3 separate regions of the Homo sapiens genome follow, and all the other regions are linked to region 1. The links come from fine-mapping of genetic effects on plasma protein levels. A gene starts in region 1. Each other region holds a variant in brackets. All regions are shown on one strand. Distances are between the middles of the regions.

Region 1 (8,000 bases):
CGACACGGTCATCACCAACCAGGAAGAACCGTACCAGAACCACTCCGGCCGATTCGTCTGCACTGTACCCGGCTACTACTACTTCACCTTCCAGGTGCTGTCCCAGTGGGAAATCTGCCTGTCCATCGTCTCCTCCTCAAGGGGCCAGGTCCGACGCTCCCTGGGCTTCTGTGACACCACCAACAAGGGGCTCTTCCAGGTGGTGTCAGGGGGCATGGTGCTTCAGCTGCAGCAGGGTGACCAGGTCTGGGTTGAAAAAGACCCCAAAAAGGGTCACATTTACCAGGGCTCTGAGGCCGACAGCGTCTTCAGCGGCTTCCTCATCTTCCCATCTGCCTGAGCCAGGGAAGGACCCCCTCCCCCACCCACCTCTCTGGCTTCCATGCTCCGCCTGTAAAATGGGGGCGCTATTGCTTCAGCTGCTGAAGGGAGGGGGCTGGCTCTGAGAGCCCCAGGACTGGCTGCCCCGTGACACATGCTCTAAGAAGCTCGTTTCTTAGACCTCTTCCTGGAATAAACATCTGTGTCTGTGTCTGCTGAACATGAGCTTCAGTTGCTACTCGGAGCATTGAGAGGGAGGCCTAAGAATAATAACAATCCAGTGCTTAAGAGTCAGGCCCGTCCTTAGTATGTTTTTTTGTTTTTTGTTTTTTAAGATGGAGTTTCTCTCTTGTCACCCAGGCTGGAGTGCAATGGAGTGATCTTCGGTCACTGCAACCTCCGCCTCCCGGGTTCAAGCAACTCTCCTGCCTCAGTCTCCCAGGTAGCTGGGATTACAGGTACCTGCCACCATGCCCCGTGAATTTTTTGTATTTTTAGTAGAGAAGGGGTTTCACCATGTTGGCCAGGCTGGTCTCGAACTCCTGACCTCAAGTGATCCTCCAGCCTTGGCCTCCCAAAGTGCTGGGATTAGAGGCATGTGCCACCACGCCCAGCCCATTCTTAGTATTTCACATGATGTGTTTAGCATGTCCTAGCAGCCTCATCTACCCAGGTTCGAATCCTGATGCCACCACTTATTAGCTGTCTAATCATGTGCATGTTAACCCAGCTCTGAGATCTCAGTTTCCTCATCTGTAAAGTGGGACTGATGATCCCAAAGGGTCATTGGGAAGATTAAATGACTTAATATATGAAAATTGTAGAGCAGTGCTCAGTTTATAACAAGGGCTATGGAAATTTTTGCTATTATTATATTTTATTTAATCTTTATGACCAAGCTCTGGGTATGGTATGATGGCCCTACATTACAGATGATGAAACTGAGGCTGCGAGGAGTAGGCATCAATCAGCAAATCAGCATCTAAGGGGAGGATCTGGGGGCCAGTCACAGTGGCTCACGCCTGTAATCCCAACACTTTGGGAGGCCAAGGCGGGCAGATCACTAGAGGTCAGGAGTTCGAGACCAGCCTGGCCAACATATAGTGAAACCCTGTCTCTACTAAAAATACAAAAATTAGCTAGGGGTGGTGGCGCACACCTGTAGTCCCAGCTACTTGGGAAGCTGAGGCAGGAGAATCACTTGAATCAGGGAGGCAGAGGTTACAGTGAGCTGAGATCGCGCCACTGCACTCCAGCCTGGGTGACAGAGCGAGACTCCATCTCTTAAAAAAAAAAAAAAAAAAAAAAAAATTGGAGGGTGGGGAGGCGGGAAGGAGCTGAGATTTGAACCCAAGTCTTACTGATGCCCAAGCCTGTGTTTAACCACTACCCTCACCAGCCTCCCTGGCTTCTATGAAGCACATGACACATCACACAGGTGCTTTTTCAACCCTGTGTTGGGAAGGCAGGGGCAGGAATCAGAGAGGGGAAGCAATTGGCCCAAGGGCACTCCGCAGTCCTTCCTGAAGCTAGGTTTCCTGAGTCCAGCCCTGGGCTTCCACCTGGCAGGTGTGGAGACCAGGGCTGCTGCCTCTGCTGCCTGATGGACATTCCGCCCAGGCTGGGGGCTGGGAGAGTCTTGAATGCTCACAGTGCATTCCAGGGCCCTATTTGTCTGTCTGGAAGCTACTATGAAGCAGCAAACCCCACCCTGTCCCTCGAATGCAGGAGAAATAAGGGGGCCAGGAGTTCAGATCTGAAAATGTCCAATGCACCATGCAGTTTCTCAAAGGAAGCTGGGTTTAGCTTTGTGCTGCACACACACACACACGCACACACCAGTTATGCCTTCACACCCACAGACACACTCAGGGAGGCACAATCCATCATACCACACAGCCCCTGCCTCAGACATACAAGTAACATCCATGAACCATCGCATATTCTCTCTCTCTTACGCATGTGTCCCAGACACACTCCTTTCACCCGGGGACACACATCCTCCTCACTCCAGCATGCACGAGCCTCAGAATGCCTGTGTTCTCTCCCACACGGACCCCCCACCACCCACACATACACTCAAACTCCCACAGGGCCATCCTCAGAAACACGGGCTGTCCCTCCCATCCACTGCCAGATGCACAAATGGCCTCATGGTCCTCGAGTGCACAACCTGAATACCCACCTCTAAAGTACAAGACCCCCTCCTGGGACTGCCCCTGCCCTGCCAACAGGCTTTGGGGGTCGGGAAGAAGTGAGGGGGGCCCAGGGAGAGGATGAACCCTCCACAGCCTCAGGGTAGCCCTCAGCTCCCTTCCAGAGTCAGCTCAGCCCTGTTCTCCCCCCGCCTCGCTCACCCAGAACACACACTGTTTCACAGGCACCGGGAAAAGAGACAGGTCTTCGGGAACCTAACGTGCTGGGCATTCCACGGCCATTGATGTATTTAATCCCAGCAAAATCGATGTGGACACTGAGGCTCAGAGAAAGCAGACATCCACCCAAGGACACACAGCCAGAAAGGGGAAGGGCCCTGGGGCTGAGCCAGGGGTGCCTGACCCCACAGGGTTAGGGCACGCAAAGAAAATGCCAGGGGTGGAGGCTCCATCAGCGGCAGTAGAGGCCAAGCTAGAGAAATGGGGTGTGCAGTGAGTGCCCGGCCACCCCCTTACCCTAAATCCTACCCATACCCCACCATCCACCCACTACCCCGATGCAAAATCTCTGGCCCCTCTGGGAGGGGAATGAACTGGAGCTGCCCGGAGCGGGGCCAAGTGGGCGGGGCACGGGAGGGTTGAGCGTGGGCCGAGGCTGCCACCTGCTGGACAAGCCGAACCCAGGCGCAGAGGAGGTGAAGAGGGAGGAGAGGAGCCCAGAGCCGTTAGGCTGGGTGGCCCCCAGCCCCATAATGCAGTATCCATCATTTCTTCTCGGCCCAGGCTTCCACCCACCAGGGACTCCTAGGGCCAAGTGGGTTCATGCCCCTTAACTCACCCCACACTCTCTGCAGTCCCATGGCACGTGGTGGAGACACAGAAGGGGAGACTGAGACCCTGAGGGTTCCTCAGTGAGGCAGGGGAAGAGCTCTGAACACCTGCCCATACCTGGCACGGGACAAGGCATCACACGTGTGTTGTGCACTGAATCCCAGCCACTGGCCTGGAGCTGTAAGAAGCCTCCATGTTACAGAGGGGGAACCAATGGACACAGGTGGCAGGTGTGGGGTCGAGGCTGGAGCCCTGCTACTGCCTGACAGCCCCTTCATCCCTAGAATCTCATGTGAGGAGAAGAGGGAGAGGGGAGAAGGCCTCTCAGCTCTGCCAGCCTGGTCCTGATGGGGAGCCCCTCACCAGCCATGGTGGGCTCCAAGCCCAGAGGCAGGGCACCCCCAGGATGCAGGCAAGGAGGGTGGTGTTGGCAGGGAAGATGGAACCGTCAGGGAAGACCAGGTGCCCCAACGAAGGAAGAGGCACCAATACTGAAAGCCAAGGCCACCCCAGTAGACAGAAGGGAGGCCAGAGGGACCAGTGATTTGCTGAAGGCATCTGGTCCATGCAGTGACAGGGCTGGAAGGAGAAGCCAGGGCCCTGGCTCTGTAGCCAGGGCAGCCCGTGCACCACAACAGCTGCCTGCCGCCAAAGCGGGTCCATCCTGGGGGTCCACCTCCAAGTGTGGCCACTGGGATGGGGCACATGGAAGTTTCTAGAACAAGGCTTGCAACTTGACAAGTGCATGTGAGGCTTGTTTCTGGGGGCAGCTGAGCAGAGGGGTCAGAGCAAGGCTTTGGGCCCCAAGAGACCACTCAGTGTGTGACTTTGGGCAACGGTGTACATCCTCCTGAGCCTGTTTCCTTATCTGTAAAGGGGGATAATAACTTCCTCCTAGGGATTCTGGGAAAACTGAGTCTCAGGCAAAGCAAATGCTAACATTGGTCATTAGATGGGATGAACCTGACTCTGGGGGACGTCTGTGCCCTGGGGGCTTGTGTTTATACACACACACACACACACACACACACACACACCCTCAGCCAGATGCTGGGGCAGGGGACAGTTCCTCATTTCGGACACTGACTGCCGGTGGGGGGATGTGGATGGGGTATTGCTGTGGTCAGTCTGGCTCAGCACCCAAAAGAAAGTGTCAAGTCAGGGAAAATTCTGGGAAAGGGGATGTGGGATTGGGGGAGGGCACGAGAAGGGGAGGGGGCCCAGCCCTGCTTTGGGCAATCCTTGCTCTGACCACTCAGACACCGTGTCCTCTTGCCTGGGAGAGGGGAAGCAGATCTGAGGACATCTCTGTGCCAGGCCAGAAACCGCCCACCTGCAGGTGAGGCCCGGACCCCTGCCCAGGTATGGGCAGATGGCCGTTTCCTCCACCTTCCGCCACCTTCCTGAAATGTGGTGCCAGGGGCAGCTTGGTGTGTGAGGGGAAGGAGGGTTCCCACTCCTGCTGGGCCCCGGGGCCTGGGCTGAAGAAAAGGCCCCACCATCCATCCATGGTGAGGCTCCTGGGGGAGGAAGGAAGGCGAGCTCCCGAGGGCTGAGGAGGACGGGCCCTGGGGAATGAGAGGGTTGGGGGCAGGTGAGGGGCTGGCGGGGACAGCTCAGCTCTCTCCCTCCCAGTTCCTTCTCCGGGATGGACGTGGGGCCCAGCTCCCTGCCCCACCTTGGGCTGAAGCTGCTGCTGCTCCTGCTGCTGCTGCCCCTCAGGGGCCAAGCCAACACAGGCTGCTACGGGATCCCAGGGATGCCCGGCCTGCCCGGGGCACCAGGGAAGGATGGGTACGACGGACTGCCGGGGCCCAAGGGGGAGCCAGGTGAGTCTGCTGGCCTGGTTTGGGGGTTTGGGTCTGGGGCAGGGATCAGAGTGTCTGTCTGGGGCTGACCAAGGGGGCGGGGGACAGCAGGAAGTGCTTGCCTTGCTGCCACGCCTGCCCCAGGGCAGAGGTGGACTCTCACGGTGTGTCTGGCTCCTCTATCCTCAGAGCCCAGGCTTCAGGCCACCCCAGAGGTGACCTTGGGCCCAGCGCACTTCCATCTTCCTTCTCCTCCTTACCCGATTATAGGGAGGGAATAAGAGCGCCTGCCCCCAAAGGTGGCCAGGAGGCTCACAGGAGACAGTGCAGGGAAAGTCTTCTTGCCCTGCAACATGGGCACCTGGGGAAGCTGGGGCCCACACAGTGAATATATCCAATGCACGACTGCCAGGGTTCAAATCCCAGCCCCTACTGATTCCCTCTATGTGAACCCGCACAAGTTACTTAACCTCGCAGTGCCTCAGTTTCCTCATCTGTAAAACGAGGAGATGGTAGCACCTGCTTCACAAGGTTGCTGTGAGGATTAAGTTAACTTAAATATAAAACAGCCCTGAGCACCTGGGAGGTCTATACAGGTGTAGGCTATTTTATCATTGGTTTTATCAGATATCCATGCTCACCTCCCTCCTTAGGATTCTGGATAGTTGGAGGGGTGGGGAGTAGGAGGTCAGGATCGCAGCCAGAGAAACTTCTGTTGGAGGTCCACAGGCAATCCTTGGCATAAGAGAAGGGGGCTGAGGCTATGAATGGGTGACTGGGGCTGGAACTGGAGCCCTGGGGGGTATGAGTGCCTTGTCTGTGAGTGAGCTGGGCACGTCTCAGATGCTAGGCATGCCTGGAGCCGGCCTGGGGTGACACTGAGCGGAGGTGATGGGGTGACAGAGGCAGTGGAAAGGAGGGAGGCCAGTTGAGAGGAATGTCCTTAGGAGTGGTCCCACCATCATCTTCCCTCCTGGATAGAGGGAATGGCACCAACATTCCAGAAGGAATTCTCCAATTTAGGGTGAGCTTAGGGTGAGCTCAAAGCTCAATGAGGCCTCCAGGTCTGCCATTTTCCAGGAGCTTGTACTTCACAGCTGCCTCTGACCACCTCCCTGCCCAGGGTAGCTGATGGCCACCCGTGATTGAGCCCCCAAGTCCCAGGTGTGGTCTCAGTTTTAGGAAATGATAAAACCGAGGCCACAATCCCTTGAAAAAGTGATTGACCCTCATTTTGCAAATGTCAAAGCTGGGGTTCAGAGAGATTGAGCAACTTGTCCAAAGTCACACAGTGGGATCCTGTCCAACTCTCAAGTCCACATTCTCCACCACTGCCCTCAGCTGCCTCTCAAGTCCCCTCTGTATTGCTGTTTCCTGGCCCCCTCTCAATTGGTGGTTTGAAGACATCACGAAGGATGAGACGCTGCTCTGCTCAGCATCACTGGCAGCCATCACGAGGACCAGACACTCCAGAGCACGCTTCCTATGGTGTGCCTGGCACAGTGCCTGTCCCACTCCACCCTTTCAGGGACTCCCTCTTCTATTATGCCCGTATCTCAACTGAGCAAATACAGGCTCAGGGAGGGAGGTCACCCACCCAGGGTCACAGATGTGAAGGCCAGGTCTGCTGGGTCCCGACCCCACACTCCTAATGCTGAGGCCTAAGAGGTTCATAAGCCATAGAGGATCTGTCATAAATGGGTCTGCACAGTCACCCAGCCTGACGGAAGTCAGAGGAGGAAAGGAAACATGAGGGCTGATGGGAGCGGTCAAGGAGGGCTTCTTGGAAGAAGAAACTGGAGTCAGCCCTTAAAAGATGAGTATGATTTAGATAAGGGGAGAAGAATCTCACAGAGGCTCAGATCATCAGGGCTGGAACAGAGTGAGACACTGGGATTCTCCAGACTTGAGTTAGAGACCTGACTCCACCTCAAACTGGCTGCACGGCCTTGGGCAAGTCTCTAACTCGGCTTCCTCATCGGCAACATGAGGGAAGTTGAACCAGGCCAGCTGTCATGGGGGCTGACGTGGGCTGAATGGGGCTGGGGTGAGCTGGAGAGAGCAGGCCCTGCAGTGGGGCGGCTTCTATTCGGCTCCTTCCAGTGGTTCCCATGTGCTAACCTGGGGAATCCATCTCAGGAGCAGATATAGGTTTTGTGGGACTCTGAAGCTTGTAAAATGTTGAGGGTCTTCTTTATGAAAAATAATACAAACTGAAAGATGCGCTTGATTGCAGAGGTGAGAGTGGTTACAAAAATTTACACATGTAGCAAAATTATATTGGAACCACACACACAGTGTATATAAAACTGGTGAAGTCTACATAAGCTTTGTGAATTCTAGGAATGTCAGCTTCCTGGTTTTGACATTATACTTTAGTCATACAAGCTGTGTCACTGGGGAAAACTGGGTGAAGAGTCCCTGTTCTTTTGTTTCTTCAACTTTCTTTGACTCTATATTTCAAAATAAAAAAGTTGAAAAAAATCAGAAATACAAAATTAGGCAAAAGGTCTTGAAGGGGCTGATGCAAGTGGACAGAACCTGAAACTTAAGCTGCCTCTGACCAACCTTCTGATTTTTTGTCAAGAAGGTCTGAGAATTTCAAATTTTAAATAAGTTCTGAATTTGTTCATGTTGGGCTCCAATTAAAAATTTTAAAAAACATTGTGCAGGCCAAACAAGATACTTGTGGCCACATGCCATCTGTCCGTGGGCTGACAGTCATGGCATCTGTGATCCCGCCCAGCTCTGAGCTCCCTACTTGCTTCATCACAAATGTGGAAACTGAGGCCAAGAGACAGGGAAGTGCCTTAGACAAGGTCAGAGGGCAGGTCAGTGGAGAAGCAGGACTTGAACCAGACTCTCTCTCTCCCCTCCAGCCAAA
Region 2 (11,053 bases), 16 kb after region 1:
CTTCTCCTGTCATCCTTCTGGCAGCCCTGTCAGGTTGAAATCAGCATTGCCAAGAGGCTCAGAGAGGTTAAGGCACTTGCCTGAGGTTATGCAGCCGGTAGCAGATGGGGCTTTAAAGTCAAGTGGGCCTGACTCCATGTTGCGGAAAGGGACTGCTGGACCGAAGGAGATGGAAAGGTCAGAGCCTGGGGGGAGGACAGGAGAAACCGCGCTGGCAATGATGATGGGCTGGCACAGGCAGGAGGCAGTTAAACCAGATGAGTTGTAAGCCCTAACCCAAGGCTGAAACTCGGTGGCTTTTGAAATGGGCTAGAACCAGCACTTTCCCACTCCCCCTGCCCCTGGCTTCCCCAGGAAGCCCAAGTCCTGTCAGTACCCTGCTCCCCACCCTCTCTCCCCACCAACTGGTCACAGCTCTCCACCCCTTGCTGCCTCCAACTGACAGAGCCCCTCCCTCTAAACACAGTCTTTCAAAGGGATTGTCTTTTTTTACTTCTCCAACCATCTTCCCTTCTGTTCAACCACTCAGGAATTCTTGGATGACAGTGATAATAATAAAATAGCTAATATTCATTAAGAATTTCCAACATGCCAGGCTCTGTTGGAAGCTGTAACTCATGTCCTCGCACATACCCTATGAGGGAGAGAGTAGCATTATCCCCACTTTATAGGAGGGTAAACTGTGGCCAGAGAGAAGGAGTGATTTCCCAAGTCCCTTAGCTAAGAAGCAGTAGAGACCTTATGTGAACGCTGAGTGTTGCTTTCCTTGTGACACTACAGGCTCCCGCCACCAGGTGAATGTGTGCTGCCTAACAAGAGCAGCAATCATCGTGGTGGTAAAAAGCCACTTTCACCGAACACTGACCATGTGCCTACCACTACCCTTGGTGTGTCCCATGCATTAGTCCTTTTATCAGGCTGTCTGGCTTCAAAGTTTATGTTTTTACCACCAGGTACAGTGGCCTCTTAACATAACATTGAGTTTTAAGATCCAGTGGATGTGGGTTTGACTCCCAGCCACACAGGAGCTGTGTGACTTTTATCAAGGTGCTTGCCCTCTCTGATCCCGTTGCCTCATCTGTAAAATAAGAAAGCAAGAGTGCATTCTCAGGGGCTGAATATCAAATTACAGGGGATAATGGCATGCAAGCCATCTGGCTCAGAGCCTGGCCTATACGTACCCAACTTATTAAAGTTGTTAAATTGCCATTTTGTAAAACCTTTAGCAAGAGCAAGAGTGAGAGCTGATGCTTATTCATGGATAAGCAGGACCATGCCCCTGAGCCACCCTGTCTTCAGAGCATAGAGCCTGACAGAACCTAAAGCTGTCACCAGCATTCCCTGGCCACACTCATCTTTACAGCTTCCTTTCCTTGGTGCACAGTGTCTGGCATAACTCAGGGCTTTCAGCAAGAAATTGATCAGGACTAGGCTGAGGGGCTGAGGCTGGTTTGCAGAGCATAGGAGCCAAATATCAGTAGGCCTTGTCTGGTCCCAGGGAGCCCTCCACATGCCAGACTCTGGGGTTGGGACAGCCAGCATGTGGCAGAGAGGGTAGGAGTTTGGCCACAACCCTGCTGTTAGAATAGTTTGCTGGGTGATTTTTGGGTAGGTTGCTTTCTAAGTTCCGATCCTCAGTTTCCTCATCTGCAAGATGGGAAATTAATCACAACCCACTTCCCCAGGGTGTTGAGAGGATCAGAGAACAGCAGCAATAGCAGTAGCAGCCACAAGTCCCAATGAGAGCTTGGGGCTCAAGGCTTTATGACTCTTTCCCATCCATGGTCTCACCTGGGTCCCTGTGGCCACTCTGGGAAGTAGGCAGAGACCACTCTGCTCCCCCATTTTAAGAGAGGATACAGTTCAGCCTCTGAGGAAAGGTTTCCTGGAGGAAGAAGGCTTTGACCCAAGCTTCGAATGAAGAAAAAACATTTGGATCTGGGCAAAGGTGGAATGGGCTGCCTCGAGAGGTAATGAGCTGCCCATCACTGAAACGGTGCAAACTATGGATGGAAGAGCCCTTGGCAGAGATGTCATTTCCTCACACTCTGCTGAGAAAGTTCAGCTTGACTCTTCCAAGGAAATAATGTGATGTGCAGCTAGCGTTGTGATTAGTTCTTAGGGCTGAGTGAACACAACGTTTGTGCAGCAGGGGAGTGCGTTGAGGCACCACACGGGGGACCTTGGCAGAGGTGTCATTGAGGAAACTTAAGAATAGGCTGAAGGGTCCTCAGGAACTTAAACATGGAATTGCCATAAGCGGTAATTCCTCTCCTGGGTATAAACCCCAAAGAATTAAAAACAGATACTCAAATCCTTGTTCACAAATGTTCATAGCAGCACTCTTCACAATAGCCAAAAGGTGGAAACTTCCCAAATGTCCACCAATGATGAGTGGATAAACAAATAGCCAAGCGAGATGGTGCGTGCCTGTAATCCCAGCTACTCAGGAGGCTGAGGCAGGAGGATGGCTTGAGCTCCAGAGTTCGAGACCAGCCTGGGCAACAGAGTGAGACCCCATCTCAAAAAAAACCAAAAACCCCAAAACCAAATTGTAGTGTGTAAGTGGAAGGTCTGTAAGTGGAAAGACACAAACGGTATTTTCCTCTGCTCTCACACCACAACAATCAACACAGAAGACTTCTGTGACCAAATGTGGGGGGTTTCTCCCCACACACCAAGCAAGCAATCAAATCTGCTGGGTGTCTTTCCACTCAGTTCTGACACTGTCTAGGAATAGCATCAGACCCCACAGGCTGAGAGCTCAGTCCCACAAGACTGCTCCCCCTCAGACACCATTTGCAAGTCCAGGCCCCCAGAACTTCTGACCAATCAGCTTCAAGTTGGGGTTCTCACAACCCCCTGCTTGGGTTTGGATTCTTTGCTAGAGTGGCCCACAGAAGTCGGGGAAACACGTTTACAAGTTTATTATAAACAATACTATAAAGGATACAGATGAGATGCTCAGGGTGAGGTATGAGGGAAGAGGCGTGCCACTGTCATGCCCAGGTCCCTGGGCATGCTGCCCCCGAGGAACCTCCTCGTGTTCAGCTATTTGGAAGCTCTCTAAACCTAGTTCTTTGGGATTTTTATGGAGGCTTTATTATGTAGGCACGATTGATTAAGCCATTGACCATTGGTAATCAATTTAACCTTCAGCCCCACTCCCCTCCCCAGAGGTTGGGGGGTGGGGCTGAGAGTAGACCCTCTAAGCCTGCCTTGGTCTTCCTGGTGACGAGCCCCATCCTGAAGCTACCTAGGGGCTGGCAGCCATCAATCAATCATTAGCATACAAAAATACCTCACTTTGGAAATTCTAAGGATTTTAGGAGTTGTCTGCCAGGAAAGAGGTAGAAGACCAAATATATACTTTGCAATATCACATGTACCCATACAATGGAGTATTATTCAGTTATAAAAAGGAATGAAGTACTGATACATGCTACAACATAGAAACATGGATGAACCTTGAAAACATTACCCTAAATGAAATGAGTCAGACACAAAAGGTCACACGTTGTATAATTCCATTTATATGAAATAATAGGAATAGGTAAATCCATAGGGACAGAAAGCAGATTCATGGTTGTCAGGGGCTGGGGGAAGGAGGATTGAGAAGAAACTGCTTAACGGGCATAGAGTTTTATTTTGGGGTGATGAAAAGTCTTGGAACTAGATGGAAGTGAGGGTTGCACAAGACTGTGAATGTATTCAATACCACTAAAATGCTTGCTTTAAATTGGTTAATTTTATGTTGTAGGAATGTTGCCTCAGTTAAAAATATATAGGCTGAGGGTTAAACTAGATGAACTTAAAGGCCACTTTGTCCTGAGAGCTAATGGCATGGAACACTGGCCATGCTGACCAGTTTGAGACAGCCCACCGGCTTCTTCCTAGTTCTTTGGGATTAAAAAGGGGCCATCACTGCCCTCTTGCCAGAGTCACAGCTCTGAGAATATTCTACCAGCAGAAACAGCCTGGTATGCTGGCAGGGACATCGGCTTCATTCCTTCCTGTATGACTCTGAGCAAGTGACTTGGCCTCCCTGAGCCTCAGTGTCCCCTTTGGTGTAGGAATCACAGTAGATGCAGGGATGCTCTAAGCATGCAAGGTGGCCCGTTCATAAGCAGCATCATACCCTGAATTCAGAAGCTCTACTGAATAAGAGCTTTCGGGGAATAAAACCCCAAACTCATAGTAGCTTAGTTGCCTCTCCACTCTTGCTTCCTGTCACTTGAACTCTTGCTCCCCTCTGTCATACTGGCCTCCTGCTGATCCTCAACATCCTAACCTCTGTCCTGCCTCTGGGCCTTCTCCATATTCTCTGTCCTCCTGGAACATTCTTGCCCCCACCTTTTCTGGACCTTCAGGTCTCAGCCTAATCATCACTTCCAAGAGTGGCTTCCCCTTGGAGAAGACTTTCCTGGTGGGAGGACTTCCCTCACAAAACCCACCACCTCCCACCTCCAGCCCAGTTACTCTGCCTCCCAGCATCCTTCTCTTTCTTTCAGAGCACCAATCACGGTCTATCACTATTTCTATTTACTTTATGCTGACCCATTTATATCTACCTGTTTATATCTGTCCCCACTAGGGGCACAAGTCCAGGAGGGCAGGGACTGTATCCGTCTTGTTCTTCACTGAATCCCCAGCACCTTGCACAGAGTCTGGTAGATAGGGGACAATCAGTGAACATATGGATGGAGGAATGGATGGATGGAGGGACAGATGGAGGAATAGAGGGATGGATGGATGAACGGATGGATGGATAGATGGACAGAGGGATGGAGGGATGCAGGGGCAGAAGGATGGATGGATGGATGGATGGAGGGTGGATGGATGGACAGATGGACAGAGGGATGCAGGGATGGAAGGATGGAGGGATGGATGGATGGACAGCAGGATGGAGGGATGGATGGATGGATGGATGCAGGGATGGAGGGGTAGAGAGATGGATGGATGGATGGAGAGGAGGATGGATGGATGGATGCAGGGATGGACAGAGGGATGCATGGGTGGATGAATGGATGCAGGGATGGAGGGATAGAGAGACAGATGGATGGATGGATGGATGGATGGATGGATGGATGGATGGACAGGGGGATGGAGGGATGGATGCAGGGATGGAGGATAGAGAGATAGATGGATGGATGGATGAATGGATGGATGCAGATAGAGGGATAGAGAGATGGATGGATGGATGGTTGGATGCAGGAATGGAGGGATAGAGAGATGGATGGATGGATGCAGGGATGGAGGGATAGAGAGATGGATGGATGGATGGACGGATGCAGATGGAGGGATAGAGAGATGGATGGATGGATGGATGGATGGATGGATGGATGCAGATGGAGGAATAGAGAGATGGATGGATGGATGGATGGATGGATGGATGGATGGATGGATGGATGATAGGATCACCACGGTGGTAACCTCTCACATTGTCTTCTCCACAGGAGGCGTCTGACACAGTATGATGATGAAGATCCCATGGGGCAGCATCCCAGTACTGATGTTGCTCCTGCTCCTGGGCCTAATCGATATCTCCCAGGCCCAGCTCAGCTGCACCGGGCCCCCAGCCATCCCTGGCATCCCGGGTATCCCTGGGACACCTGGCCCCGATGGCCAACCTGGGACCCCAGGGATAAAAGGAGAGAAAGGTACCATGGGATTTAGCAGGACACTGGTAATACTGACCAAATTTCCCGTCTCCTGCCTCCCAAGTCACAGTTGCCTACCTTTGAGACTGCAAAAGCACTGGCAAATCCAGCAGCTTGCTGAACCCTTGCAGTAACTTTGCAAGGAGGGAATTCTGATTCCCATTTTACAGAGAGGAAAACTAGCATCTAGAAAGTCTGCTGACTTACTCAAGGTAGCCCAGTAAATGTTGAGGCTAAGACCAGACCACGGATCTCTTACCATTAAATTCAGGTGGAGAGGGAGTGCCGCTGTGGCCACAGAGTCCTGTGTTTAAACTTACCTCCTGGGCAAATGACTTCTCTCTGAATTGCTATTTCCTCACCTGTAAGATGGGGGCAATGGTACTTTTTTGGGGTTGTCATGGGGTTCAAATGAGACTCCCAGCCTTGAAAACCCCTCTGTAAAATTTGGTTTATTCATTCATTTAACCTACCGTTATAGAGCAACTGTCTGTGCCAGTCACTCTCCTCACATAATCTCATCTAATCCTTACAATCCCACAAAATATCTTCATCCCCATTTCACAGATGAGGAGGCTGTCCTCAGGAAATGTGACTCAGTCAAGGTGACACCACTACTAATGGCAGATGTGACACGCAAAGCACATCTCTCTGTCCCCAGATCCCATCTTCTCAGGCCCTATTCTCTGCCACTCTACTGGAAAATCGGTCTTATCTTGTGTTGTGCCAAACCAAGGGGTAGTGGCTGCTTGGGGGGTGGAGTGAGAAGGAGTCTAAAGTCCATTTCCAGGAGCAGCAAGAGTGAAGGCCATGGTTGATTAGGGATGTCTGCCAGGGGTGAGGGATAGAGGGAGACAGCACTCATTATCCCTGCTCTAGCTGAAGAAGGACCCCCACACAAGCTGGGGAGGAGGGCCGGCCTAGCACCTTCCTTAGCAAGGAGCCATTCCCCTCCCCACGATCAGCAGCCCCCAAGAAGGTCAAGCATATCACAGACTCAGGAAGCTGGGCTGGAGGGAGACCCAGAGCCCCTGCCTGACACTGCCTCCTTCGTTTTACAGATGGGAGACTGAGGCTCAGAGAGAGGCAGGGCCCTGCCCAAGGTTCCAGCGCAGGCCTCCTTCTTTTGGTCTCAGTGATCTCACTTCTTTGGTCTCTGCTTTTCCAGGGCTTCCAGGGCTGGCTGGAGACCATGGTGAGTTCGGAGAGAAGGGAGACCCAGGGATTCCTGGGAATCCAGGAAAAGTCGGCCCCAAGGGCCCCATGGGCCCTAAAGGTGGCCCAGGGGCCCCTGGAGCCCCAGGCCCCAAAGGTGAATCGGGAGACTACAAGGCCACCCAGAAAATCGCCTTCTCTGCCACAAGAACCATCAACGTCCCCCTGCGCCGGGACCAGACCATCCGCTTCGACCACGTGATCACCAACATGAACAACAATTATGAGCCCCGCAGTGGCAAGTTCACCTGCAAGGTGCCCGGTCTCTACTACTTCACCTACCACGCCAGCTCTCGAGGGAACCTGTGCGTGAACCTCATGCGTGGCCGGGAGCGTGCACAGAAGGTGGTCACCTTCTGTGACTATGCCTACAACACCTTCCAGGTCACCACCGGTGGCATGGTCCTCAAGCTGGAGCAGGGGGAGAACGTCTTCCTGCAGGCCACCGACAAGAACTCACTACTGGGCATGGAGGGTGCCAACAGCATCTTTTCCGGGTTCCTGCTCTTTCCAGATATGGAGGCCTGACCTGTGGGCTGCTTCACATCCACCCCGGCTCCCCCTGCCAGCAACGCTCACTCTACCCCCAACACCACCCCTTGCCCAACCAATGCACACAGTAGGGCTTGGTGAATGCTGCTGAGTGAATGAGTAAATAAACTCTTCAAGGCCAAGGGACAGTGGTCTAATTCAACTCTGTGTCCCAGCACCTGGCACACCAGAAGTGCCATGCTCAGAAATGTTGGTTACATGAATGAATGAACCATGAATGAATGAAATCTCTGTCCGTGTGCTGCTCTGTGCCAGCCACACAGTGGGAGGTGGGGGTCCAGCACCAACTATGCTCCCAGTGGTAGCCTACACCTTTTCCTGATTCTCTCACTAATCCTCACACTCCTCCTGGGAGAGGGCGCATCGTGCCCAGCTTACAGAAGAGCAAACTGAGGATCAGAAGGGATGAAGGGATTGTCCACAATCTCACAGCAGGGCTGGGATTCAAGGGCAGGCCTGCCCATTGATGGCCTGAGACCTTTTTTAAAGGCAACATGTCTAGGCCAGCCCCTAAAGGGGTTCTGTGCTTGTCCCTTCCTGTTACCCCTACCAAGGATCAAGGGGTCATCCTCCAAGGCTTTAACTGACCTTGGAGCAGGAACCTTTCCCTTTCTTATTCTCCCCACATGCCCTTCCTCCCAGTATCTTCTCAGCCTAGCACAAACTCAGCCATCCAGTTAGAGTAAATGTCACTCCCCCGCTCAAAAACCTTCAGTGGCTCCCCACTGCCCACCAGATACAGTCCCAGCCCATGAACTTGGCCTTCCAGCCTCACTCTACTGGGCCTTTCTGTCTTCTAAACAAGCCCACCTCAGTGCCCTTCCTCGCACTGTTCCCTTACCTAGAAGCCTTCCACTCTGCCCATCTACCCATCCTCATTCAAGCCACACCTCCTCCCTGAAGCAGGAACACCCTAGCTCTCGCACGCTCACTCCTCTGGCCTCCTCTACCCCAGAGCGTGCACAGCCAGCATTTGGCTCCTCACCCTGTCTCCCCAGCTAGGCTGTAGCTCTGCACCCTGCTCATCTCTGAGCCAGCACAGAACCCATGATGGACAGCAGCCACTCAGTAAAGATTTATTGCCTGATTGGCTGAGACCACAGGACTAGGACTCCAGAGTCCCGCCCAGCTCTGCACCTGCTCTCCTCAGCCTCTCCTACTAGCCCCAGCATCAAGACCCTCAACCAATCCTGACCTGAGATGGGAGGGATTTAAGATAGTCCCACCCGTGTCAACCAGTCCAGCCTCCTGTTTGGCTGGCCTGTCTCTCAGGATTCCATTCATTGGGTGCAGCTTCTGCCCTATCTCCTGGGCCTGGGGCCTGGCCTTGATGACCTGCCCTAACCCCAGACTAGGTCCAACCGAGACCTAGAATCTTTTCTCCAGGAGCTGGCCCTTATTTCTGCTGCTCAACCCTTTCAATGCAAACTGCCTGGCCTTTGACTCTAATACTAATAGTTATGATAGTAATGGTCACACCACAATTGAATTACTGTGTATCTAGTGCTTTGCGCACATCAGCTCATTTAATTCCCAACCACAACCCCTAGGAGGAACATAGTATCATCCTCATGTGGTTACATGACAAAAAATATAAAACTCAGAGAGGGCAAGCAATTTGTCCAGGG[T/C]CACAGAGCTGACAGCTACACAGCCAGGTTTGGAGCCTGCTTTTGTTTGCCTCAGATTTCATCACCTCCTTGCCATCCACATCTGTTGGAACCCCTTCTGCAGCAACCCCCCTCTGCAGCCCCATGACCTCTCACCTGAACCCATCTGACCTCAGGAGTTCACATTCTCGAGCCTCTGCAGTTGGGTCCATCCTTGCTAGGCTACACTGCACCCGGAAGCAGAGCTGGCTGCTGGTGTCGAGCATGCGCAGAGCACCCCATCTTGCTGCACAGACCCAGGCAGAGCCGGGCTTGTCTGAGAAGTCAGAGCTCCACGCTCCTGCCTGCTTGTCTCGGGAGCTGCTGTCAGGCCGCCTGGCTCTTCTGCAAGACCAACCCTCCTCGGACCCCTGACCCATAAACCCTGACCCTGCCCCCTGTCCTCCACCAGACCCCCGCAGTCAGGACACTCATAACAGTGCCCTTGTCGGGCCCTCCCAGGAGCTTCCAGACCTGCCAGAAATCCAGGCTCTGACTGTGTGTCTAGCCATGGCCATCATAGTCCAACATCCCTTGCTCTACGCAGACGTGCATGCATCTCGACTCTTCACATTTATTTATTTATATTTATTTTTGAGGCAGGGTCTTGCTCTATTGCCCGGGCTGGAGTGCAGTGGCGTAATCATGGCTCACTGCAGCCTCGATCTCCACGGCCCAAGCAATCCTCCCACTTCAGCCTCTCAAGTAGCTGGGACTACAGGTGTGCACCACCACACCCAGCTAATTTTTGCATTTTTTTGTAGAGATGGGGTTTCACCATCTTGCCCAGGCTGGTCTCGAACTCCTGGGCTCAAGCAATCCACCCGCCTCAGCCTCCCAAGGTGCTGGGATTATGGATGTGAGCCACTGCACTCAGCCTTCACCTTTATCATGGCTCTTTTCCAACCAGTTGGGATAGGGTTGCTCCTACAGCTCTCTGGGGAGATGAGTGAGGTTTCATTACAAGAACCTGGACCAAGAACAGTGTGGGAACCCAGAAGTGATCTGAGATGAGTCCTGGTAGCTCACCTGTTTTATCACTGCCCAGACACCTTCCTTTTCCCCTTGGTCCCATTCTCAGAGGCAGTGGGACTCAAATCTTCTGCCTGGGCTAGCAGTTGGGCAGGGAAAGGAAGGGAAGTGGCTCTCCTCAGGCTTATGACCCTTGAACCTCATGCACCCCCTTGATCCTGACCCCCATCCCTCAACATGCCAGAACCCTTTTACTTGCAAGTGACAGAAGCCCCTTCAAACAAACTTGGGAGAAAAAAGGGAGTAATCAGAAGAACCCAGGAGCAGGGGAGCTGCTCAGTCTCAGTGGACACAGGGTTGAGACCTGGGTGCCCCCCAGACCCGGACTGGGATATTACTCTGAGACCTCTCTTTTCTGCATCTCTCTCTGCAGAACTGCCCTCTCAACTGTGAAGGCAAGCGGATGCCCCCAGATGACGTCTGGACCCCCAAGTTAGCCCCCATCTTTCATAGAAGTGACACAGAGTCTAACATCTCCAATCCCCAGTTCCCAGGAGAGAGATGCAATTGCCCCTGCTTGGAATCAGGATACTCCTCGCCCAATCAGCTGAGGAGTAGATCATTCTAATCCAGTGCTTCTCAAACTTCAGCAAGCATCACAGTCACAAGAAGGGCTTACTAGAATTTGCATTTTCTAACAGTTCCCATAGGGTGCTGTTGCTTCTGGATTTGTTTGTTTTTTTTTAAATAGAGATGGGGTCTTGCCATATTGCCCAGGCTGGTCTCAAACTCCTGGGCTCAAGTATTCCTCCTGCCTCGATCTCCCAAAGTGCTGGAATTACAGACACGAACCACCTCGCCCGGCCTGTTGCTTCTGTTTTGGAGACGACCTGTTGAGAACCACTGCCCTCATTATATTGCTCCCATTCTGTAGATAAGAATATTGAGACTCGGGGAGGGATGCTATTTGCCCATATCATGCAGAGGATCTGGGATTTCAATCCAGGT
Region 3 (11,053 bases), 28 kb after region 1:
AGAACCAGGTTCAACGCCCGGCAAGTCAGTTCTGGAGCTGCTGCTCTGTCACTGCAGACAGAAGGATCCCCGAAGGGTGGTGCTGGTGGCAGTTGCGGGCACTAGCTCTTGACTTAGACCTGAGTCCGAACCCTGCCTGGGCTTCTCACTAGCTGTGTGCCTCCCATCAAGTGACTGCCCTGGTCTCCTGTTTTACCCCCATACAAATAAACAATGCACCTGTGATGTCCTGGCGCAGATCCTTGATTCTTTTCTTGGATTAGACCCCTAGAAGTGGACTCCCCAGGTGAAAGGATATGCACTTTTGAAGGCTTTGAAATGTGTTTCCAAATGGAGGGATGGGCTGTCAAGGCTGAACATGCCAGGCCTGTTCCAGGCTTGCTGCCACCAGGGGGGAGCAGACACCAAGACAAGGACTGCCTGGAAAAGGGACCGGTGGTTACGCGGGACCGTGGAAACTCCTCCCTCCCTGCTCTCTTCTCCCCCAGGCCTTCCCACTCTCTGGGTGGGCTATGAACTTCCAGGGAGGTGCTGAGGTCAGCTTTGAAGACCCAGGTTCCTTCTAAACCAGCGTCCTCAACGTGGGGTCCCAGCATCAGCCTTGCCTGGAAACTTGTCAGAAATGCAAATTCTCTGGCCCCATCTCAGTCTGGCTGAATCAGAAAATTGGACGCAGGAGCCCAGCAGTCACCTGCCCAGGTGATTCTGATGCAGCCAAGCTTGGGAATTACTGCTTTAGACCAGGGGTTGCCTCCTTTTTCTGTAAGCAACCAGGAAATATTTTAGGCCTTGCAGGCCATACAGCATCTGTTGCAAGTATTCAGCCCTCTTTTTGTAACATGAAAACAGCCATGAGCAATATATAAATAAGTGAGCATGGCTATGTTCCAATACATCTTTATGAACACTAAAATTTGAATTTTACATAATATTCTCGTGTCACAAAATATTTTCCTTTTGTTTTTTTTTCAACCATTTAAAAATGTAAAAACCATTCTTAGCTAGCAGGCTGCACACAACAGGCTGTGGGCTGAATTTAGCCTATGGGTTATAGTTTGCCAACCTTCTCTAGTCCCAAATATGGCTCTAACCTTGGAAAAGAGGAGCAGGAAGTTGAGCCCAGCACTGCCTGACTCCCAAGTCAGTACTCCTTCCTGTAAGTTCGTCTGCCAGATCCCAACCTTGGGACACTGGCAGAAAAACTCTCTGGGTCTCACTGCCTTTAACAGTAAAATGAGCATTGCAATCTCTGTGCAATCTGAGGCACTGGGTCGCCTATTTTACTGTGCAATGAGATCCCCTAGAAACTTGCTAGCATGCAGTTACCATACCAGAGGTGCTGATGGTTCTGTTTCCATCAGATTAGACAATATCTGGAGGGGCCTGGGAATCTGCACTTCTCTCAAATACCTTGCTTTGGTTTCAAGGTGGCCCTCCACCTCCAGCCAGGGGCTGGGCTAATGAACATGAAAGCTTGAATAGCAGTAGACGCAGCCTCTTCCCCCAGGAATCCAGTGGCTATATGGGGAGAGAAAATGGGAAGAAGACTTTTTGTCTGTCAGCACCTACAAAAGATGAGAAATGCAGCGAAGAAGAAAAGCCTACGGGGCTTTGAGAGGCTGGGTTCAAATCTCACCTCTACCACTTACAAGCTGCGTGTTCTCA[G/A]GCTAATTACTTAACCTCTCTGGGTCACAGTTTCTTCATCTGTCACATGGGGGTGATAATCAGACCTACTCCAGAAAGCTGATGAGGATTAAATGGGATTCTGTGTGCAAAGCCCCTGGCACACAGAAAGTTCCCCACAAGTAGCAGCTGTCGTTATGGTGATGGGTTGTTTAGAATCAGGATGCTATGGTGGTGCAAGCGTTCCCCAAATTTTCATGTACACAGAAATCACCTGGGGTCTTGTCAAAATGCGGATTCAAATTCAGTAGGTCTGGGATAGAGGCCTGATAATTTGCTTTTCTAATAAGTTGCTGGGAGGCATTGATGCTGCTGAGCTGGGACCACGCTTTAGGTAGCCAGGGTTAGAACCAACCGGTGGTTCAGCATTTTGATTTGTTATGAAGTTGAATTCCGTCATCCATAGGCACCAGTTAGCCTAGGAGCTGGTAGACAGCAAGTGCTCTGTAATTAACATGTTACCCGTACTGTTGCTATCGTGCTCATTGTGATGATGTTCTGATGGTGAGGATGCGGGAGTTCAAGGTCAGGCAGAGGAAAGGACAAAGGGTGGATCATCGTTTCCCCAACGCTGAGCATTGTGGTCTCCCTCCTGTTTCTCCTCCATGCCCTCGCCTTTCTGGTCTCCTGCTGACAATGGAGCACCAGGTGCCCTGCCTTAAACCACCCCCCTACCCAACACACACACACACACACACACAAACATGCCATCCTTTCAGAGCAAGCTGCAAGCTGCATTTATCTTTGTGCATAGCCAGGAGGCATTCTCATAGACAACCCTGTTGACTAGATGCAGGAGAAAAGGGGGTGTTTGTTCGAGAAACCCAGCAGCCCACCCAGGGAGGGACACCCGCAGTGAGGGGACCTGGCAGAGCAGGAGGCACCCTGGATGGGAAGTAAAGAGCTCCCAGTTTTACGCTGGTCTCGGAACCTGACTTACTGTGCAACTTCAGACAAGTTGCTACCCCTCTCTGAGCCTCAGACTATCCCATAGAAAGAGGGGCTTGCATCAGACTCACCAGGGGAGCCTGTGATAGTGTCAAGCCCACCCCAAGCCTATTGATTAGGAACTAGGGGAGCTTGGTGATGCCCTCAAGAAAAGGGTAATGAATGGTGACAAGGTCACCGACCAGTGAGAAAGCAGTAGCCCAGTCCCTCGATTACACCTTACTTATCCAGAATCCTCAGCTACGCAGAACACGGCCAGGACCCAGGAGGGAACAAAGGAGGCCAAAACTGACATCTCACAGCCCAGAGAGCCTGGAAGATTCATGTTTATCAAATGAATGCATGAAAGCATGGCTATATTAGTTAATTAATTAATTGACTGATCGACTCCAGAGAGTATAGGACCTGGAGACAGATATACATAATATATGCTCAGTGAATAGCTGCCAAACGGAATGAAGAAAGGTAAGATGGAAGGACTGTCAAAATTATGTCCTGCCTGGAAAGATAGGGCCTATACTAATAATGTTTCCTAAGCCCTTGGGACAATTTCCAGGGGAAGGCTTGGCATCTGGAAGGAAAGGAAAGCAGGCAGGGAGAAGCCAAACTGAGCCTCATGAACGTACCCGTTGTGCAGACATTAGCCCATGTCATCCTCACAGCAGCCCCTGATGTGGGCATCATTACCACTGTCCAGAGGCAAGGACCCAATGGACAACTGAGGCCCGAGAACCTCCAGAGAAACCCACTAGGGCTCAGAGAGCATTCAGGGCTTTAGGAACCTACCTTTCTTTCTTTCCTTCCTTCCTTCCTTCCTTCCTTCCTTCCTTCCTTCCTTCTTTCCTTCCTCCCTCCCTCCCTTCCTCCTTTCTTTCTTTCTTTTCTTTCTTTCTTTCTTTCTCTCTCTCTCTTTCTCTCTCTCTTTCTTTCTTTTTCTTGAGACAGAGTCTCTCTCTGGCTCCCAGGCTGAAGTACAGTGGTGTGATCTTGGCTCACCGCAACCTCTGCCTCCCAGGCTCAAGCAATTCATCTGCCTCAGCCTTCCAAGTCACTGGGATTACAGGCGCGCACCATCACACCTGGCTAATTTTTGTATTTTTAGTAGAGACGGGGTTTCACCATGTTGACTGGGCTGGTCTCGAACTCCTGAGCTCAAGTGATCTGCCCAACTCGTTCTCCCAAAGTGCTGGGATTACAGGCATAAGCCACCATGCCTGGCCCATACTTTCTTTGTAGCCTCCACTCTCATTTCTGTCTACGTCTTCCTGCCTTTCCAACCACATTTTCCCATTGCTTTTGCAGATTCTTCTCATTTATGTCTTCTCATCACTTTTTTTTTTTTGAGACAGGGTCTTGCTCTTTTGCCCAGGCTGGAGTGCAGTGGCATGATCATGGCTCACTGCAGCCTCAACCTCCCAGGCTCAAGTGATCTTCCCACCTCAGCCTCCCAAGTAACTGGGACCACAGGTGCACACTACCATGCTCGGCTAATTTTTGTATTTTTTGTAGAGACGAAGTTTTGCCATGTTGCCCAGGCTGGTCTCAAACCCCTGGGCTCAAGCAATCTGCCCTCCTCAGCTTCCCAAAGTGCTCAGATTACAGGTGTGAGCCACGGCACCCTGCTTCATCACATACTTCTCCCTATAATCTGCCTTACAGCATCTGTGGAGCAAGAGAGGACGTAAACAAGTCAACCACCAAAAAGAAGGCAAAGGAAGCAAAGCAGGATGCACCAAGCAACTCCGACGTGTCAGGTGCCATGCCAGGTGCATTGTGCAGGTTCCCTCACTGGCTTCTTGCTTGAGCCCTACCGAGTTCATTCCTGCTTTGCCACCTTCTAGCTGGATGACCTTGACAAGCAAGTCGCCTCGACTCTGAGCTTTTATATCCTTGGCTACAAAATGGAACTCTATTGGCTACTATTGTTATGAGCATTCCATGAGCTAGTGTATGTAAAGCACCCACCTGGCACATAGTAGACATAAAATAAAATCTGGCTGTTATAAAGAAACACAAGGCTGGGCACAGTGGCTCACGCCTGTAATTCCAGCACTTCAGGAGGCTGAGGCAAGTGCATTGCTTGAGCCCAGGAGTTCGAGACCAGCCTGGGCAACATAATGGGACCCTATATTTACAAAACATAAAAAAATTAGCTGGGTGTGATGGCACACACCTGTAGTCCCAGCTACTCGGGGGGCTGAGGTGAGAAACTCTGTTGAGCCCAGGAGGTAGAGGCTGCAGTGAGCCATGATCACACCACTGCACTCCAGCCTGGGCAACAGACCAAGACCCTGTCTTAAAACAAAACAAAACAAAAGAACCACACACCCTCCCAGACACATAGTAGGCCCTCAACAAATGTTAGCATCCTCACCTGTGGAATGTGACTATTGGTTGTTGTGAGGTTCAGGTGAGCCACAAGAGGCAAAAATCCTGTGCCCACCTTAGGACAAATTTTTCCTTCTCCCTCCAGCCTGGATTCCAGCCATTCCAACAAGCCCCTGCCTCTGCAGGGCTTGCGGCGGCAGCACGTGAGCCGTGCCACAGGGTGGGTCTGTCTGCAGGCTCCAGGCCTGAGTTAGCATATCTCGGGGCGGGCTCCCCATGCCAGCACAGGTATCCACAGGAGAGACAGCTGGGCCCTCGTTAACAAGGTGTCTCCAGACCTTATTTGGAATACGTCAGCTACTGTGATTAAAGACAGTACATAAATGTCAGCCTCGCCGGGCCCCAGCCCCAGCTGGTTTCCGGGGAAGGAGACCAGAAAAATATGTCTTCATTCCTTCTGTTTTACAGCTTAGGCCATGATGGCTTTATACAGAGCGAGTTCACCGTGGTGGAAACCTGCGCAGGTCCTGCCAGGCGTGGGGAGTGGGAGAACAGTCTCCCATTGAGCCCCCCGCCAGGCCAGGCCTGATTGTCGTGTGACCTGCAGTCACTTCTCCCCTTCAGAGCCTCGGTTTCCTCATCTATAAAATGGGGACATAATATATGTGCCCATGGGTTCTTAAGAAATAAAGATCACCTTTGGAAGCTGCCCAGGGTAGTCCCTCTCCAGGAGCAGGCACTCACTGCAACCAGGAAAACACAAAAAGGGGCACACTGGGGAATGGAGCTGCCCACTTTGTAGACACAGGTGCTCAATGAATGGCCCTTTCCTTGGATCCAAGTGGGGAGAGACTTTGACATTCTCAGTGAAACAACATTGAAAGTAGGTAATTGGGGGCAAAGTAAGGTGCAGGAGCACTGCTCCCAGAGTCACTGACTCACTGTGTGACCTCAGATAAGTGACTCCAGTCTCTGGGACTGGGTTTCCTCATCTGTAAAATCCCTGGCCCGGCCGGGCTCTTCCTTTTGGAGCACTGTGATAAGGCCAATACCTGGCCTCAGTTTCCCAATCTGTAAAATGACGGGACTGGACCAGATGATCTCTGGCTCATCTCAGCTCAGGCACATGGAATTTTTTCCAGGAAGTGAAACAATGGTCAGGACTAGGCTGCGTGGAAAAGGGAGATTTCATGATTAACGCAGGGGCAGAATCCCATGGCAAGAGAAGCCGTTCTGGAGAGTGGGGTTATGTACCTGAGGTCACACAGTGCGTAGGTGACTCTGAGACCAGTGCTCCTGCCATTCCTATGGCAGGAGAAGCCCTTGATGCTGTTGGAGTCCCTCAGGGAGGCAGAAAGATAAACCCAGGGCAGGGAGAGAGCTCACCATGCTGCAACCCGAGCACCAGACAAAGGTAGCCTGGGAGACCTGTCTCCCAGTCCCAATGGCAGGATGAGGGCAGGGGAGGGGACTGGAGATGCCTTTTCACAAATTGCTTCTGAACCTCAGAAAAAGAGAATAGCCTGGCACCAACTTTGCTCCTCCCTTGTTCCAGGTTTTGTTCCAAACACTTTACACATCTTCACTCATTTAATCTCCATGAGGCAAGTGTGACTGTTATGCCCATTTCACAGATCTGGAAAGTGAGGTATAGGGAAGTAATTTGACCGAGTCCTCACAGCTAGCCCACGGCAGAGCTGGGGCATGGACTAAGACAGTCTGGCACTGAAGCCACTCTCTTGAAGTATCAATGATGAAGAGCACCATTTAATGAGCACCTACTATGTAACAGGTGCTGTGCTGGCTTCCTTACAGAATGATCTTCATTAACTGGGACAGCATTCTTACGAGGACGGCACTTTGTTACTCACATTTCATAGAGGAAGAAATGAAGGCCCAGAGAAGTGAAGCACCTGGCCTTGGTCACAGAACTGGAATGTGGCTGAGCTGGGATTCTGACCCAGGGCCCAGGCCCCTTCCATGCCACCAGGCTGGACAGGACCCCCTCTGCAGAAACTCTGAGTAGAGGCTAAAGCAAATGTCAGGAGACAGAACACAGCTATGTCTTGTGTAGAATGGTAGGAAAGTCTGTCAGGTGGTCCCGGGACAAGAAAAGGCATCCAGAACACAGCTGGGTGTTGGGGAGATCCCTATGAAGGATGTCTGGGGGCTTTGAGGGGCTCTGGGGGGCTTCAAGGGGTTCTGGCAAGCTTCACACAGCATCAGAGTCGTGAAGGCAGGTCCTCTGATCGAGGGCCTGCTGTGTCCTGGGCACTGTATTAAGTGCTTTGTATTCATTATTGCTCAATTCTTACCGTGGTAGGAATGGCATAGATCTCATTACTATCATCCCCATTTCATGCATAAGGAACTGAGGCTCACACAGGCTCACACTAGTCCAGGGTCACATAGCTAGCAAGAGCCAAACTCAGGTCCCCCCGTTTAAAAGCCAGTGCCTTTCCAATGGGCCAACCCTTCCTTCCCAGGTTCAAAGTGCTCAAGCCACCCAAACCGCATGGCTCAGGATCTGGTGCACGGCAGGTCCACGGCCTTGCCCCTTCCTAGCTCCATCCCAGGACCCTGAAAGGGTTAACTTCCCTGTGGCCCCAGGTCCGTCCCTGTCAGCCCACCACCCCTGCCCCTGCGTTATGAGGACCAGACCAGCTCTCGCTCCCGGCAGCTGACGAGTTCTCCGCTCAGTGGTTCGCGCTCCAGATATTAAATTACTCATAAAATATTTGACCTGTCCCCAAAGTGGCTGCTGCCTCCTCCCTGTGCCCACTGCTCACTTCACAACAGAAGGTCACACTATTCCATGGGGGAGGGGCCCTTGGAAAATGAACCCAACTTCATCTTGGGGGATCTGGGAGCCCAGGAAGGGGTAAGCTCTGGTAAGGTTGGGATGTTCCAAGGGCAAGGATTCTGTCCCCCATTCTGGGGCCCCCCGGCCTGGCCTGAGCAGAAGACTATGCCCCCAAATCTCCATGCTGCAGGGTACAAAGAGCCCAGAACTGCTGACTGCCCCGAGTCCCTCAGGATAAGGCCAAGGGTGACCTGGAATAGGTTCCCATTGTCTGAGGGACGAGTGGTCTCTCCTCTCCTCCTCCCTCCCCTCCTCAGTTGCCATGGCAACCACAGTGGGGGGTGGGAGGCTGGACCGCTCAGCTCCTGGCCGGGCTACCCGGCATGCTCTGCTTTCACCCAGTTTTCTCCCTCGTTGCCCCTTGGCAGGCAGGGGGTGGGGCAGACCCAGCCCTTTCACGCAGCGGAGGGTTTGCAGCCAAGGAGCATCACCTCCCGTTCCCTGCCTTCACGCAGGAGGTTTTCCGGCATGGCCCCCAGGAATAGGACTTTTCTGAGTATGGTTTATCAGATAATGATTTTGGGGAGGGGTCTCTCTCAAGCCCCCTGGAGTTAATGAAGTCAGTTAAGCCCTGGGATTAGAAGGTCGGGGTCATGGGTACAGCCCATGTTTGCAGAGTAACGCCCCACCCCACCCCTAGCTCCCACCAGCTGTTTCAGAAATGCCTAATGCTGGTCGTCTAGGGAACTAGTGAGAGGGTCTGGACAGGACATGGCAACCTCATCCTGAGTACCCACAGTCACAGTCCCTCAGAGTATATACCCCGCAGCCTGGGCATTGGGAGCCTCCTCTCTTTCTTCCTGCCCCCTCATAGATGACACATTTTTCATAATAGTAGTGTATATATTACTAGTAAGTTCTTATCACCCTGGCCTGGAGTTTCATAAAGTAATACTGAAAGAAACTGGGTTTAGCCTTTGTCGTGGCTCTACTTGGGGTACACTGCCACCAGGTGGCGGTAGGCACTTTCCAACTACTCCCTGAGATTCCAGAAGATGATATTCCACTTTTACATTCCACCACCACAACCTATAAAATGCCATTGCTTTTTTACTTTTATATTAAGATTACAGGACTTTATAAATAGCCAAAGTTAAGGAGGCTTTAAACAAACTCTATGTTTTGGTAGTATAGCATAGCAGACAGCACAAACTCTAGAGCCAAACTGCCTGAGTTCAAATCCTGGCTCAGCCACTTGCTAGCTAGTTAACCTTGGACAAGTTACTTCTCTGTGCTTCAGTTTCTTTATCTGCAAAATGGAGATGATGGAAAGCAACTCCCTCGATGCATTGTTTTAAAGACTCAATGAGTGAATGTACATGAAGCATTTAGAACAGTGCCTGGCACAGAGCATTAAGCTCTTTAGAAATGTTGGTTATCGATATTTAAAGATGAGCATAAGGGAAAAGTTTCAAAAACAGTTCATTTTGAGACCCACGGACATATCTTTCTCTGCTCAATCTTTTATCTGGTGTTTCTAATCTGGTGATTCATTTCAGGGCTGCCCTGCTAGACACCCATCATCTGCCCAGATGCCTCTTCCAGCTCCCTCAACCCCACATTCAAGCCCATATCCTAATGCCTTTACCTCCCGGGTGTCTGTGGGATTGTCCCCTGCACGCCCTGTGCACAGCCACCCTGATCTCATTCCTGAACCACTGCAACTGTCCCCCTGCCTCTTGCCTGCTCCCCTCCAACCATCTTCTCACCGCTGCCACAGTGATTTTTCTAAAACAAAAATATGCCTCTACTCAAATGCCCTCCATAGCTCCCCAGTGACTCAGTATCAAGTCCAGGCTCTTCAGGTAGGTCCGTCTCCTCATCTCCCACTCCAGCTTCATGCCCCCATCTCCACTGTCAGAATGCCATGCCCTGGTTCCAGCTGCCTCCTTGTAGTTCTCCCAAAGCCTTGGGCTCCCAGGCTCTGTAGCCTGGGCAGGGGCTGCCTCCTCTGTCTGCATCTCTTCCTTCCTTCTCCTGCCTGCCCATCTCCTGCCTGCTAAGCCTCAAGATGTAGCCCCTGTCTCCCTTTCCCTGGGAAGCACTTATGATCCCTCCACGGCCTCTGAACCGGGTGCAGACCTTTCTCGGCATGCCCAAAGCCTCTGCATGCTGGAAAGGGGCTGTCTCAGTTTGTTGGTATCACCAGAGATGCCCTGCACACAGCAGGCCCTCAGAGTACCTCTAAGGAATGAATCCAGAATGTCCATTTTGCCAATTCGGCCTACAATGTCCTCTTTCCCATCTTCTCCGTCCCAGCATCTCTTTCTAGGTCTGGCTCAAATATCACCTGTTTAGGAGCCTCCTGGTAACCCGCACGCCCATGTCATCCCTGCATTAACTATTTCACTCTCTCCTCAAAGAGGCAAATGCAATAGGCATGAACTTGACATGTGTGGAATGAATGAACAAATGACCAGGATTATGGTCTAGACCAATGTTTCTCAACCGGGGTTGGCATCCCCCCAGGGGACATTTGACAATGTCTGGAGACCTTTTTGGGGTCACAGGGTTGCTACTGAGATCTGGTGGTGGAGGCCAAGGATGCTGTAACACCTCCTGCAATGCACAGGACCGCCCCCAACCAGAAGTTATCTGCCCTAAATGTCACTTTCTCAAGGCTGAGAAACTGGGCTAGAGCTTGTTGCCTACAAATCTGTCTTCCTAGTACGCAGAGGGCCCCAAGCACTGAGCCTGATCTTATTTCTCCTGATTTTCTCAGTACCCACCGCAGAGCAGGCACGCAACAATTTTTTTTTTTTTGACACGGAATCTCGCTCTGTCACCCAGGTTGCAGTGCAGTGGCACGATCTCGGCTCACTACAACCTCTGCCTCCCGGGTTCAAGCAATTCACCTGCCTCAGCCTCCCGAGTAGCTGGGATCACAGGTGCACGCCGCCACATCCGGTTGATTTGTCTGCATTTTTAGTAGAGGCGGGGTTTCACCGTGTTGGCCAGACTGTTTACGAACTCCTGACCTCAGGCGATCCACCCGCCTCGGCCTCCCAAAGTGCTAGAATTACAGGCATGAGCCACTGCGCCCAGCCAACAGTTTTTCAAAATAAGCTCATGGGTGACATAATTCTTGTCCTTTTCCTCTCCCCAGCTTCCACCTCTCACTAGGAGCTTGGCCTCAAACTATTGTCAAAAGCCCCTTCTGGGACTATTCTTGCTAAGTCCCTCCAGTTTCTGCTGCCCCCAACCTTCCCTTTCTCAGATTCTCCTGGTCCC

What was found. PIP is the chance, under the fine-mapping model, that this variant and not a neighbour inherited with it causes the effect. Protein levels are from the aptamer-based SomaScan assay of Sun 2018.
Region 2: its variant is fine-mapped to the plasma level of the C1QC protein (Sun 2018, PIP 0.95).
Region 3: its variant is fine-mapped to the plasma level of the C1QC protein (Sun 2018, PIP 0.95).

Annotation. Positions count from the first base shown.
Region 1 is chr1:22,639,068-22,647,067 of GRCh38, forward strand. It overlaps C1QC (complement C1q C chain), which reads left to right and starts at 4,566. Exons shown (of 3, transcript NM_172369.5): 1 at 4,566-4,647; 2 at 4,944-5,137. The coding sequence starts at 4,957. C1QA (complement C1q A chain) reads left to right here. Exons shown (of 3, transcript NM_015991.4): 3 at 1-611. The coding sequence ends at 340.
Region 2 is chr1:22,653,984-22,665,036 of GRCh38, forward strand. C1QB (complement C1q B chain) reads left to right here. Exons shown (of 3, transcript NM_001378156.1): 2 at 5,457-5,660; 3 at 6,829-7,654. The coding sequence starts at 5,480. The coding sequence ends at 7,403. Among named protein-coding and RNA genes, the nearest start is that of C1QB, 6.3 kb to the left of the region's middle. The variant T/C (reference allele first, on the strand shown) is at 9,056.
Region 3 is chr1:22,665,556-22,676,608 of GRCh38, forward strand. No RefSeq gene overlaps it. Among named protein-coding and RNA genes, the nearest start is that of C1QB, 18 kb to the left of the region's middle. The variant G/A (reference allele first, on the strand shown) is at 1,666.